2 linked regions of the Homo sapiens genome follow. The protein of the gene in region 2 interacts with the protein of the main gene of each other region in a pairwise test. Each region holds a gene or a part of one and is shown on either strand. Other genes may lie near its edges.

Evidence for each region.
Region 1: the proteins of MACROH2A1 (region 2) and VCX2 interact in a two-hybrid assay, tested with the Homo sapiens proteins (one large-scale study listed by BioGRID).

Annotation. Positions count from the first base shown.
Region 1 is NC_000023.11:8,169,262-8,172,722, forward strand, and holds VCX2 (variable charge X-linked protein 2), read right to left. Parts: upstream 2,007-3,461; 5' UTR 1,846-2,006; intron 1,529-1,845; 5' UTR 1,383-1,528; coding exon 1,281-1,382; intron 1,089-1,280; coding exon 771-1,088; 3' UTR 683-770; downstream 1-682.
Region 2 is NC_000005.10:135,343,557-135,347,375, forward strand, and holds part of MACROH2A1 (core histone macro-H2A.1), read right to left. Parts: intron 2,502-3,819; coding exon 2,412-2,501; intron 1,125-2,411; exon of another isoform or gene 1-1,124. UniProt on the Homo sapiens protein: Variant histone H2A which replaces conventional H2A in a subset of nucleosomes where it represses transcription. Nucleosomes wrap and compact DNA into chromatin, limiting DNA accessibility to the cellular machineries which require DNA as a template.

The sequences.
Region 1 (3,461 bases), on a different chromosome or scaffold from region 2:
CACCTCTTCCTCCCTCCCTCCCTCCCCACACACCACCTCTTCCTCCCTCCCTCCCTCCCCACACACCACCTCTTCCTCCCTCCCTCCCTCCCCACACACCACCTCTTCCTCCCTCCCTCCCTCCCCACACACCACCTCTTCCTCCCTCCCTCCCTCCCCACACACCACCTCTTCCTCCCTCCCTCCCTCCCCACACACCACCTCTTCCTCCCTCCCTCCCCACACACCACCTCTTCCTCCCTCCCTCCCTCCCCACACACCACCTCTTCCTCCCTCCCTCCCTCCCCACACACCACCTCTTCCTCCCTCCCTCCCTCCCCACACACCACCTCTTCCTCCCTCCCTCCCCACACACCACCTCTTCCTCCCTCCCTCCCTCCCCACACACCACCTCTTCCTCCCTCCCTCCCCACACACCACCTCTTCCTCCCTCCCTCCCTCCCCACACACCACCTCTTCCTCCCTCCCTCCCTCCCTCCCCACACACCACCTCTTCCTCCCTCCCTCCCTCCCCACACACCACCTCTTCCTCCCTCCCTCCCTCCCCACACACCACCTCTTCCTCCCTCCCTCCCTCCCTCCCCACACACCACCTCTTCCTCCCTCCCTCCCTCACCACACACCACCTCTTCCCCCCTCCCTCCCTCCCTCCCCACCATCAGAGAACACGGAGTCACTCAGATCAATTTGCAACACATTCATTTTATTATCTTCAGAATGGCAAGCACCCCGCTGGTGAGATCTCTGAGGTCTGGCGGCTGGGCCTGAACTTAGTCGGTGCTCTCGGAGACAGGGGAAAAGCTGGCCATCCACACAGTCAGTGGTTCTTCCACCTCGCTCTCCTGACTCAGTGGTTCTTCCACCTCGCTCTCCTGACTCAGGGGGTCGTGCTGGGTCCCCTCGCTCACTGGCTCCTCCGGCGGCAGCTCGTGCTGAGGGAGCTCCTGGCTGGGCTGGTCGCTGGGGCCGGGTGCCGCTGGCGCGCTCTCCGCCTCAGGTGCCGTCACGGCCGCCATCTTTGTCGCAGCCCCTTTCTTCCCGCGTCTCCCTCTACGAACTGCTTTTCCCTTCTTGGCCACCTTGGTAGTCTGGAAGGACAACAGGGAGATCACAGAAGGGCTCTGGTTTAGGGACGAGGATGGAGGAGGCTGGGAACAGGGACGTGTCCTCAGAAGCGGTGGGGGCCGGGTTGGGGGGTTCTGCCAAGTGACGACAGGAGAGGCTTCTTGTGAGGAAGGAGGCGAGGGGAAGACGAGGAGGAGCTTGGGAGGGTCACTCACCTTCTTCTTCGGGTCACTGGGGCTCGGCTGAGAGGAGGACTTCCTCTTTCCTGCCTCCGTGGCCTTGGCCGGAGGTCCCGAGGCTCTCGGCTTTGGACTCATCTTCCGCAGCTCAACGTCTCGCAACGGTCGACTAACTCCAGGCTGCCTGGCCTCCCTGTATATACCCCTCTCGCGATCCCAGGACGAGACAATCACGCCCCTGAGCTGTGATTGGTCAACACTCCACTACCCAGCCAATGGTAGCCCTGGGCGGGAAGGAAGGCCTTATACGTCACAAAGCACCATCAGGACATGGCGGATGAAGTCGGGGGCGGGGGGGGGGGGTGACATCTAATGAGGAAGGCAGGGTGCTCTAATTGGAGAAAGGGAGATTTGGGTTAGCACCCCTAAAGATAGTTCCCAAACTGACATGTCACCCCTCCTAAACTCCCCATGTTCAATTTTGGCAGATCACGTGGCACGGGAGGATATTTCCGCCACATGTTTCCCCCGGACCTCCCATTCAGTGGTACATTCTGTTCCTCCACACCTGCCATCATTACCCAGTTTCTGTATGACCTATCTAAAATCCCTCCATGCTAACTGGGATGGATGGAGGGCTATACGAAGACGTCAATCATCCCTCTCTCCTACAAATTCCTCTGCTACACCTTGAGGATCATTCACTTCTTGGATGCCATGAAACAACTTTTCCATCTCACATACTTCTCCCAGCATCCACATAGTGCCTCACAATTTTTCATTCTCATGGTTTAAAGCACTGGCTTCCAGAGGTCAAGATCAGCAAACACACTCGCTCAGCTGGGTATCGGTATCAGGCTGGGTTTCGGTATCAGGCTGGGTTCCTCAGAGAAGGAGAAACTAAACCAACAGGATATTGTGTGTGTGTGTGTGTGTGTGTAATATTATATATCATAAATATATATTTACTATCATGTAGTATTTATGAATTATATATATGATACAGTTTATTCTAAGTAATTGGCTCACACATTGACTCAATGTGGGGGTCTAGGAAGCTGAAATATATAGGGCAAGTGAGCAGGCTGGAAACTAAAAGCTTCTGCACAGCCAACAGTCAACAAAATGAAAAGGCAGGCTATGGTTTGGGAGAAGCTATTTGCGAACCATGTATCTAATAATGAGTTAATATCCAAAATATATAAAGAACTCACACAGCTCAATAGCAAATAAATAAATAGTCTGGTTAACAAATAGGCAAAGGACTTGAATAGGCATTTCTAGAAGGAAAACACACAACTGGCCAACAGGTATATGAAAATGTGCTCAACATCGTTAATAATCAGAGAATGCAAATGAAAACCACAATGAACTATCACCTCACTGTTACACGCTGTTGACAGACGTGTAATTGGTACAGCCGTTATAAAAAACAGTGTAATGGTTCCTTGGAAAATCAAAATAGATCTACCATGTGACCCAGCAGTTCATCTGTTAAGTATGTACCACCCCCCAAAAATGAAGTCCACATCTCATATAGATATCTCCAGTACTAACTAATTGTAACTCATTAATTACACAGGAAATTAGAGTTTCTATTTGAAAAGAATGTTTTTTTCACCATTCTGGTATCAAATATTTATTCTAGTCATCTCTTCTTATTTCTTGCTTTGTAATAACCTAGGTACTCACTACCCATTGACAGAACCAACTTATTATTCCAACAAGAAATGAGAAATACTGAGGAGAATGCAATGTGATACTTCTGTCTTCAACCAGTTATTCCAGTTTTATGGAGGATTCTGTATTTAACTCTTACTCAGGTAACTCTAGTTACCAAATCCATAGTACCTAGTCAACAATCCTAAAAAAGTAAGAATACAGAATTGACTCGAATGGTTACTAAACTTTCTATGTTCAACCAGTTTTCCTAGTAATTGCTAGTTGTTTGTTCAACTAGTACTGAGAAGAATTTGTTTATTCCAGGTACTGGCTTCATGTAGTTATCTCTAGTTAATTACTCACTTGGATAAAGTAGATATCTACTATATTAGGTAATATTTCTAACATGAGGTTGGAATTTTGCATTGAGGAAAATGGTTATTGAACTCCCTGGCATAGGCCAGTTATCTTCAGCTTCCTGCAATCAATTACCTGGTCTGGCTAATTCTAGCTATCTTTAGGTTGCTAATTACATGTTTACCACCAGATGTCTGT
Region 2 (3,819 bases):
CGAGGAGTTCCACAGCTGTCTGCTGCGTTGTGATTCCAACGTGAGCTGGAGCCAAGCCACACCCTTGGAAAGTTGGCATTATGATGTGTCACCACCAGGAATTTTGACCAAGTTCGTAGTAAGCCTCTCTCCACTCTCAGAAAGCATACACGGTTCTCCCAGAGGCAGAGCCTTATCCATCAAAACTCAACTGAACGCAAACTCAACGTGTCAGAACATTTGCAGCCTCAAAATAATTGTTTTGGGTTTCCAACCCTTCTTCTTCAAGTCGACTGGTGTGCTAATTATCGACTTGCACACCAATATGATGTATTTGTCTCTACTATGATGTATTCTCTAAATCTCCCAAACCCAATTCAGGACAAAGCTACTAGGAAAGCAACTGCTTTAAATGATCTGCTAAGCAACCTGACCAGCATCTCCACTCTGCCATTGTCTTCTCCCTGCTGAGGATGGCCTCACTGTGTGAATAACGGATCCTGTTTATTTGTGGCAGAATTAGATTAGTTTTTAAGGAACTGTGTTTTTCTTTTCCTAGAAGAGGGGCCCCTTTCTAGCTATACATCTCCACCAAAGACTTGCCTTTCCCTTGCCAGATCTAAGGACACAGGCCTGGGGTCTGCCACAAACTGCAAAGTACCATGTCTCCCAGAGCATGTTCCAGAACCCCTGTCCACAGATGCTCTGCAAAGAAGGTTTCCAGGGCACTGGGTTTAGCTGCATGCTACGCTTCTATACAAGAGCACACCAGAGTCTCCACACCACTGCTAAAGTAAAACATCCAAACTTTTTGTATTTGGTTGGCTATTTCTGAAACTTTTTTTTTTTTTAAGGAATATCTGTCCAAGGGGTATGGTTTGTTATGGTCGTGTCATAGATACTGGAGAAGGAGCGATTTGTGGGTAGTGTCTCATGGTACAGTGGAAACAGCTCAGTCACAGGGTGTGAATTTGAGTCCTGGCTCTGCTTTGTGACTGGGCTTGAGAACTCTGGGCTGACCTATAAAAACCTGACATTGGGGGTTGAATTAAACCAGTGGGTTTGTCCCCATGAGAAGTCATGGCTAAACTATGCATAGAAAACGACTGGAAAGAAACATTAACAGTGACTATCTTTGCACAGTGGAACAGGAGTATGTTTTATTCACCTCTTTATACTTTCAAAAATATTTTAAAGCAGTTTCTAAAATAGCCCTTAAAATCAAGAACAAAAGTGTTATTGAAACAAGCAAAAATATCTTGAACCATGCTATACCTAATGGGTTTGCATCTGCTGTGGCTGAGGTTTCCCCAGCAGAGTTTGGTACATGGCAGCACCAGGCTGCCTACCAGGCCTTGTGCCAAGGGCTACCAGCAGGACTCAAGCTGGAACCCCGATGGGAAAGGACCCACAGGCTGGTCAAACAGGTGTTTTAAAGGGCCTGGGGAAAGGCCAGCTGCCCCTGGCTAGGTAGTTAAAACTGTGTATGCCTTCCCTTGTACAATGTGGGACTTTGGTGGAACTGCCTGGGAGAACTTCATAATTACTACCCTGTATGTCATGCCCCTTGCAGGTAAAACAGAAGTGGCAGAGCAGAGGTCAAAGGCACAGATCAGCAAAGGGAATCCTACTGGATCCTGAGACTAGCCTGGAAGGGGTGTCATTTGTCACTGGGAATAGAGGTGCACGGCCTGGTGGACCCTCCGAGAGAGCTTAAGATTCATTTTTAAAACAGAGGATTTAAAAGACACAATAGGCATTGGAATCGGGTAGTAAGAAGAGAAAACCAGAGCCCCAAGTGAGGAAGTGGGTGATCTGTCCTCACACAGTTGGTGGGGGAGCTGGGCCTCCCCACTGACTGGACTCTCAGGTCCTTAGGAGGTGCTCTGTCCTGCACACCCCAAATGACCACCTAAATTCAGGCCTGAAGCAGTAAGAAGTACCCTGCCTCCAGGTCTTAGCAATAATTCTCCCCACATCAGATGCCAAGTCGTTTTCTTCCCCTTATACCAGGGAAGGTGTAATTGGCAAATGAGAAATGTGTATTTATATGTTTCCTCTTACACACACAGATGGCTGAAGATTTTTAATTTGTATCTCTCACCAGCAGTTTTGCAGATGGCTCAGTATCACTCACTCTCAGCTCTTAGATGTACCAAACTCAGCTCCTATAATTTCTTAAAATTTGTGATCTAGACATCAAACATATAGGAGCTATTTTAAGTAATAAAAAAAAATGCAAAGGTGATTTTCCCAGACAACCTGCATGTGGTGAAACTCTAAGATGTAAAGCTACAGGCTGTCCTTGGCCTCCATCTTGAAGATGCGGCTGTGCTGCCACACACCTCTGAATTCTAAGCCCTCTCACAAAATGGCTTTCCTAATACTGCATGTGTCACAACCAGATAAGCACGGTGGCTTTCCCACCTCACCTCCAGCTACTTCCAAGGGCCCGTTCTTTTTCCGGAGTTCCAGGACAGCTTCCACAAACTCCTTGCCACCTTTCTTCTCCAGCGTGTTTCCTAGACAAGGACAGGGTGGGGTCAGGTTGCCATTCTGTGTCTCCGGCACACACAGACACTTAGCATGTCAGGTGATTACATACTTCAAATGATCTATTAAATTTCCATCAGGCTGCAAAACAGGAACTAAGCCTTGGCTAAGTTAATAAAGTAAAATTGAGAAGGGCTTTGTCATCACCAGTTACTACCCTCAAATTGCTGCTTCATCTGGCTGTCTCTGCTGCCCCTTATTTGGGTCTGACTCAGGGTGATCATGGATGTGCCAGAGATGTGAAAGAGACAGGACATGCTTGTTTTTTGCAAACATGCTTGTCCTGGATGCTTTTCATTGGCATGAGATACTAGCTGGTACTGGTTTCCAAGACTAATGCCTGCCTTAGGTTTTCTTCTCTGTCTCTGGGGAGAACCCCCAAGTAAGGAGGTTTCAGCAGCATACAATGCTCCCATCAATAAGCCAGCTCTCCTCCTGGCAGCAGGCCTAGAAGGAAGTGTTCATACCTGGCCACCTTTGGACCAGCATTATTACCATGCTTAGTTCCTGTTTTGCAGCTTTGGTGTCATATGCAAATACAAAATAAAAATGGCCTCAGACGGTATTTTCTTAATTACACTAATGATTCAGAATTGTTTTCAGTAAAGAAGGGCAACATCAGAAGCAGAGCTTAAAGATTAATCTGTGTTCTATAAAAAGCTTGGAAAGGAGGATGTCTAACTGCTCAGGACCAGATTTTTCACAAAAGCCAATGGAGATTGGGAGCAATGTGTTTTCTTCAATTAGGGCACTTGCTAAGTAATCAGTTCCTGCTGTGAAAACCAAGTTCCCAAACAAGATCACCAACACCTATGAGAACTCTGGGTTGATGCTCATGTGGGATAGCAAGTGGCAATCAAAGTTAGCAACAAGATCAGCCTTTCAAGTTTGGCCAGAATGGGGTCTGAGTCTTCCTTAAGCTCTGATTCCTCAGTTTTGCACATTTTAAAGTACTTTTCCTCACAAGAGGACAAAATACTCCCCTTAAGATTCACATCTGTCTTGGAAAATTCCAGGTGCACCTGGCACAATTCTGGTATGGGACGGTCAAGGTGCATCGGAATGCACCAGCCCAAATTCTCTTTGGAGTCACCCTGCGATGACCAGGGTTAATTATCTTAGTGAAACTTGCCTCCTTTGAATGTTTGTTCTGCAGGGGTGAACTAACCCCGGGAGGTGTCTGGGAAGAAGAGTAAATAGCTTGGGCTTTGTCCCAAATAAGAACCAGGGCTAATGGCTAGGACTGGGCCTGTACCCACCCGCTGTAGGAAACCTGGGGTGTGCAGA